Linked DNA regions of Homo sapiens. The protein of the gene in region 1 interacts with the protein of each later gene in a pairwise test. Each region holds a gene or a part of one and is shown in the gene's direction. Other genes may lie near its edges.

What was found.
Region 2: the proteins of LZTFL1 (region 1) and FZD5 interact in a two-hybrid assay, tested with the Homo sapiens proteins (one large-scale study listed by BioGRID and IntAct).

Annotation. Positions count from the first base shown.
Region 1 is NC_000003.12:45,835,518-45,839,344, reverse strand, and holds part of LZTFL1 (leucine zipper transcription factor-like protein 1), read left to right. Parts: intron 1-1,293; coding exon 1,294-1,418; intron 1,419-3,560; coding exon 3,561-3,755; intron 3,756-3,827. UniProt on the Homo sapiens protein: Regulates ciliary localization of the BBSome complex. Together with the BBSome complex, controls SMO ciliary trafficking and contributes to the sonic hedgehog (SHH) pathway regulation. May play a role in neurite outgrowth. May have tumor suppressor function.
Region 2 is NC_000002.12:207,761,771-207,764,981, reverse strand, and holds the end of FZD5 (frizzled-5 precursor), read left to right. Parts: 3' UTR 1-2,384; downstream 2,385-3,211. UniProt on the Homo sapiens protein: Receptor for Wnt proteins. Functions in the canonical Wnt/beta-catenin signaling pathway. In vitro activates WNT2, WNT10B, WNT5A, but not WNT2B or WNT4 signaling. In neurons, activation by WNT7A promotes formation of synapses.

The DNA of each region.
Region 1 (3,827 bases):
AGGCCGAGGCAGGTGGATCACGAGGTCAGGAGATCGAGACCATCCTGGCTGACACGGTGAAACCCCGTCTCTACTAAAAATACAAGTAATGAGTCAGGCGTGGTGGTGGGCGCCTGTGGTCCCAGCTACTCGGGAGCCTGAGGCAGGAGAATGGCATGAACCCAGGAGGCGGAACTTGCAGTGAGCCGAGATTGCGCCACTGCACTCCAGCCTGGGTGAAAGAGCGAGACTCCGTCTCTAAAAAAAAAGAATCTGTATTTATGCTTTGTTTTTAGCAAATTGTGACATTGTTTTGTGATATTTCTAAATTGTGGGATATTCTTGCCCATACTAATGTGTGACTATCAGAGATAATATTGTCTCTAATGTAGGTAGTCAATTATTTTTAGTGTGTAATAGAAATCTGTCTTGTTATTCACAACTCAAGTGCATATATGACTGTAACCTGTTGTACTTGAGTACCTTAGAGATTTCCCTTTTGCTTCCCTTCAACTCTTGCTATCTCCATTCTATCCTCCAGACCTTAAAGACTTATGCCACCTAAACTGCTTTGTAAATCTCATCAGCAGCTTAATTACAAATCCAACTAACATGGCTGATGCCTTGCTCTTAGCTGACTGCTGACCTGCTCTGTTATTTGGGTGCTAGCCCTACCTCCATGGGCTTGCCTCTTAAATATTTGTCAAGCTGTCATCTGGTTTAAAGTACAGACCAGTTAGTGGTTCTTTCCAAATCAAATATACTTGTTAAAGCTGTATTTAATGGGGTAAGGGTTAAGCTGCTATAACAGAGTTGCTGTTTTTTGCTGTAAGGTTAAGTGGCTTGAAGAATACAGAAGTTTATTTCGCTCTCACTTAACAGCCATCTCACTGCTCATCTCAGTTCAGTGAGAGGGTCAGTGCCTCTCCATGAGGTAGAGACGTGGGGCCCTTTCATCTTGCGGCTCCCCCAGCCTCTAGGGCATTGATGTTGTCTGCATGATTCAGTCAAGTCGCCACCTCTTCCAGGTTTCAGAGAAACAGGGAGGGGCAGAGGTACACCCCATATCTTAAGACCAGGTCTTTGGAAGTAGACCACAACATTCATTGCTGAGAAGTAGTCAGCAGTGACTTGATTGCAAGGAGGGCAAGGAAGTGTCATCTAGGTGGGCAGCCATGCAGCCAGGAAGAAGGGAAGAATAGAATTTGATGGAGATCTAGCAGTCTCGACCACAGGATATCTTATGCATTTTCATTGTTGGCTCTTTGATCAGATCTTCAAAACTAACAATTAAATTACCTCTTTCTTTTTCAGGCAGAGTTGGGCCTAAATGAGCACCATCAAAATGAAGTTATTAATTATATGCGTTTTGCTCGTTCAAAGAGAGGCTTGAGACTCAAAACTGTAGATTCCTGCTTCCAAGACCTCAAGGAGAGCAGGTATCAGAGGAGGACTCTAAGCAAACCAAATAGGAACATGGATTCTTTCTGGTAGCCAGTATGGGGGTGCCATAGCAGAGGCCAGACAATTTCTGGGATTCATCATGATCAATTATTTGCTAAGAGCAGCTACACTAAGCCTCATGGATACAGGAAACAAAAGAAGTTGTATTGTGGTGAAAGCAATGAATCTATTGTCAGAAATGCATGTGATAATTGTAGGATAATTGTAGGATGGCAGAGTTTGAGAAGGAAGTTGCCAAGGGTTTGTGGATTAATGATTGGCTTGTTGTATTGAAGATTCCAGAACTTTAATTACTTGAGTTATTAATTAAATGGTTAGAGCTATAAGACATGGCAATTAGTGAGAAAACACTTCTGTGTTTCATACTGAATAATTAGTAGAGAGGAAAACAGCAGGAAATCATAATGCTGACTAGTACCAAAATTGTTAGTTGATTTCTAGCATGAGATGATAATGGTTGGACCGTAGCTGATTTGTAGCAAGAGATGAATGTCAAGTCAGATATAAGTGAAAAAGACCTCCAAGTGAGCTCCAGCTGCCATAAACTCATGAATGTCTCAGTATTAGAGGCCATCAGCCTTAGACCATTCAGTCCATTAAACTCATCTGGTAATCTGGTTTCCTATCCCCCAGCAGATGAAAGCAACAATTTAATTGGCGAGAACATATGTTCTATTGAAGAATATAGAAAGATTATTAATATTTTAATAAGGATTTATATTTAAAAAGTTGTGGTTTTTTGAGAATGACTAAATTCTGCTGGCTAGATGAAACATTAAAGAATTATAAAACAAATACTATTAACTTGAGTTTAACTATGATAATGCTTTAGTGTAACTGGGTCTTGCTTGATGATGTCTTTTTGGAAGTAGGGAAGAAAATAAAGCTGAGGTTGCGGTAGCTGCTCTTCATCTGCTGAGAATCTGAGGGAGAAGGGACTTTGGAGGGTAGAGGTAGGGAGAGGAGAGGACTGTGTTACTGTGATACTGTCATTGAAACTGGAAGGCACACACAGAAGCTTTTTCAAGGATTTAGCTGTTGGGCATGAATCCTTTGCCCAGAATCATTGCTGAAGATGATTGTGGGGTTTAGTCACCACCAATGTAACCATAGGCAAGTCATCTCCACTCTTCAAACCTGTGTTCCTATCTGTAAAGTTAGGGGATTGTAGAAGATGGCACCAAAGTTCTCTTCCAACCCAAGCATTCTCTATGTAAGAGTAGTTTTGTTTTTTTGTTTGTTTTTTTGAGACGGAGTCTCACTTTGTCGCCCAGGCTGGAGTGCGGTGGCATGATGTCGGCTCACTGCAACCTCCACCTTCTGGTTACAAGCGATTCTCCTGCCTCAGCCTCCTAAGTAGCTAAGATTAAGGCACGTGCCACCACACCCAGGTAATTTTTTGTATTTTTAATAGAGAAGAGTTTTTGCTGTGTTGGCCAGATTGGTCTCGAACTCCTGACCTCAAGTGATCCACCTGCCTCTGCCTCCCAAAGTGCTGGGATTACAGGCATGAGCTACCATGCCTGGCCCTGAGAGTAGATTTCTAATGCTATTGTTGATGATGATATTCATTTTTGTGGAGTGTTCAGTAGAACTTTAAGATAAGCTAGTTTTTATTATTATTATTATTTTGGGTCTCAAGAATGCAAAGAGAAGCAATATATATAATTACCATTTATTTCCCATAGACGTTTACTAACCTGTGAATAGTTCATACAGTTATTAAAATGTTAGAGAAATATTAGAAAGAAATGAGACTATGCCTTCCGGGTGACTTTTGAAATTATTAAATGTAATAAGACTGATTTCAGTGGAGTTTGAAATAAGACATTTAATACTAAAAAGTTAAAAAAGTAGATGATGGTTTTGGGAATGTGTTTGAGCATTTACTTGTATTAAAGGATGTGCACAATTTAATCATTTGAATAGATGTCAAAAATTAATTGAGTTTAAATTATTTTCAATGTTTATTAATAAAGAAGATAGTTCCCAGAGAGATTTTCACTGTAATCTTTGAATTTCTTAGATTACATGAATGTGGGTTTCTTAATTTTGCTGTATTTTGTAGATTTTTCTTGTTGTTTTTCTATAAGTTTTGGATCATGGTTGTTTTTCAGGCTGGTGGAGGACACCTTCACCATAGATGAAGTCTCTGAAGTCCTCAATGGATTACAAGCTGTGGTTCATAGTGAGGTGGAATCTGAGCTCATCAACACTGCCTATACCAATGTGTTACTTCTGCGACAGCTGTTTGCACAAGCTGAGAAGTGGTATCTTAAGCTACAGACAGACATCTCTGAACTTGAAAACCGGTAATAAAATTTGAACTTGCAACTGTGACAATAATGGCCCAAGCATAATCTTAAAAGTTAGTGAACATCTTT
Region 2 (3,211 bases), on another chromosome or scaffold:
TACAGAACTTTGTGCCTATTTTATTCCTCTATTTATTCTTCTAGGAAGAAGCCTCTTCCTAGAATCTTGAAATAGATCCCTTGACTGAATGCCAATTCCTCTCCTGTTTTTCAAATGAGAGAACCTTTTCTGATCACCTTGACCTTTTCCCTCATTTCATATGTCTTCCCAGAAAGTAGACAGACTGCTCTGCTGCCTTCAGTCATTGTGCCTCATTTGGGTTGTCCCTCCTTCTTTGTGGAGAAATCTGGAAATGATGCACAGTGTATCCAAAAGTTGTGGGATGAAGTGGATGAAAGTGATTTAATTCATTTTTAGAATTTTTTTTTGTTTTGTTTTAGCAACATGCTGAACAACTAATTTACTTTAAAAATAAGCCAGTTAAAACAAAGGACGCTAAGCCCAAGTGGGGGGCAATATTAGTCAGGATCTTTGGGGTCTAATTCCAGACCAACTTTCAGAAGCACTTCTTTGTCTCTGTTCTCACCTCTGCTGTCCCTCTCTTCCCTCATCCCCTAAGAGAGACAAAGATAAAAGCCCACCTGCATCCCTAAGTCTTACTGAGATCAGCCACCCCAGGGGAGAGAAACTGGATCTACTTACAGCCACCCCCTGTTTCCATCCATATAGTTACTTCCCCCAATTTGCATGTGATTATGGAAACAAGTCATGCTCATGAAAGCAACTGTAAAATAAAAGGTTATGGAGTAGTTCAGCAACTTCTTCACAGCCAGCTTTGTGGAGCTGGGGAGGACTTAGGGCCCATTGGAGTCTCTTATGTGTACAGCTTCAGGGCTGTCCCTTTCAGTTTGATTTTAAGCAATGCCTCACTTCATAGCTTAGGGGGTAAGGATTCCATTCAGGTAGGTTGTCTAAAGGAACTAATGGGACCTCTCAGTGAATTAGCTGACCAGATTTTAGGAAATCTTTTTAATTTCTATGATTTTCCTTCTCACATTTTGAAATGGTAAAATTGACTGGAAATAATTTTTCTTGGTGCCTTATTGGTTTTCCTTGCAAACCTTTCTCATATTTTCTCATGACCATTGCCAGTGACCAAGGCCCATGTGTGTGTTGTGTGTAATTGTGGGCATGTACAAGCTTAAATAACGTGCCGACAGCACTGTTTCAAAGTTGGTATTCATTAGGCTGTTGCCTCCTGGGCTGGAGCTGCGCTAATCCTGACACCGGCTGCCAGGAGAAAACCTCATGGATCACACACCAAACCTTAATAACAGCATCCGTGACCTGCACTCTCCAGTACAGAATGGGAACCCCAGAGCTAGGAAATGTAGTTGTATATTTTAATGAACTGCTACCCCAGCCAAAGAAGCTTCTTTCACTTTTGTGCTCTACAGAAAGCCCAAGGGGGGTAGGAGGGACAGAGCTTTGAATAACTGCTTTCTAACACTAAATGTGGCCAACAGGACAGAGCACATCACACGTATAGGCAGGTGTGAGGGACAGTGGCTAAGAATTGCCTGCTCCCTCTGCATGCTCTTTCTTGTTTCCAAAGTCCAATCAAGTGATCCTGGGAAACAAATCTGTCTGGATTGCGGAGGGTGGTTCTGAAAGAACTGCCAAGACGTTAAAGAAGGGTGAAGAGTAGGCAGAATATAAGTAGCTAACCTGAGTCAAGACTCTCAAAAGCTAGCAGCCTGATGACAATAGGATTTATTTCAGCCAGGATAGTGTCTGTCTGTGAGTGCATCATTTTAAGACAGTATGACTTCATGTTGTTACAAACTATGTATAGTATGTATGTTTTGTGGGTTGTATATATACATAATATATATTATATATATATATGAGAGATTTGGTGACTTTTGATACGGGTTTGGTGCAGGTGAATTTATTACTGAGCCAAATGAGGCACATACCGAGTCAGTAGTTGAAGTCCAGGGCATTCGATACTGTTTATGATTTCCATATATGTATAGTGCCTATCCCATGCTGTAGTCACTGTTATGTTAAATCCAGAAGTTACACTAGAGCCAGCGATACTTTATTTGTAGACAATCAATTTGAATCCATATGTTATTACTGGCAGATGATACATGATTACAGTTCTGAATCTGTAACACTTACAAAAGGAAACCCAGAGCAGCTTGATGAGTTTTTGTTTCTGCTTCGTTCCTGGGAGTCAGTAGAAACAGCAGTTGTATGTGGTTATGTTAGTCTCAAGATACTTAATTTGTTGACCTTACTTCAGAAAAATTTTGTATGTATTATATTTGTGGGAAGGTAAAATAATCATTTGAGATTTTTATCAAATATGAAGATTAGTTATTTATGAAAAACAAAGAAATGTCTATTTTTCTTTGTTCCCAATTAATGTAGATAAATTTTAAAATGCATTAAAGTAATGGTAAAGACAATAAAAAGATGCTGTAGAAGTCTTTTTCTCCTCATGTTTTTATAGAGAGACATTGCTTTCTAAGAGTATTCGAGGAGATAATACGGATTCTAACTTCATAATCAGGTTTTTCAGATGTACTTAAAATATAAGCAGCAAAAATTTTATTAGTAAGTAAAATCAAGCAAATTCCAATCACCAGAAACAGAACTAGTTAAGAAACATGTTTTACTTGAATATCTTTCCTAGGTCTCACTCCTGCCGATCCTGTGATTGTCTCATGAGTCACTTGATGAAGGCAGATACGTGGAAGAACAGAGACTTTGCCTGAGATTGCGTTCTATTTTATAAACCCTCCATTTACACTGAACCAATTTGATTAGAGATGATGCTGTTTTGTGCGTCCGGTTGGAGGGCAGGAACTCCCAAAACTTTGTCATCCAGCAGTTGGATCTGCAACTTGGTATTGCGCTCTAAATACAAGTCAGGGAGCCCAGAAGAGACAGTAACACTGACTGAGCTGGCTCTTCCCTGTTATCTGGACAGATGCTTAGTAAGCCTGAGATACTATTGTTGGACCACCTACTGATGCTGCTTTGGCAAAATGCAGATTAGCCACCATCTACCAAACACCACCTCATTTTAATGCCTGGGATGTCAGTGTTCTCCACCAACGCTCTGAGACATAAGTATGTGGGAGAACATGGGTAATTAGCTTAAAATATTTGTAGGAGACAACATAAATCCAGTAAGAAGTTAGCATTATGAGAGTGTGTAATTCAATGTCAAGGTGAACACTAGGAAGTTTATTACATTGATGCATAAGGTAGTTAGGAGAGGCAGACTAGAAAATAT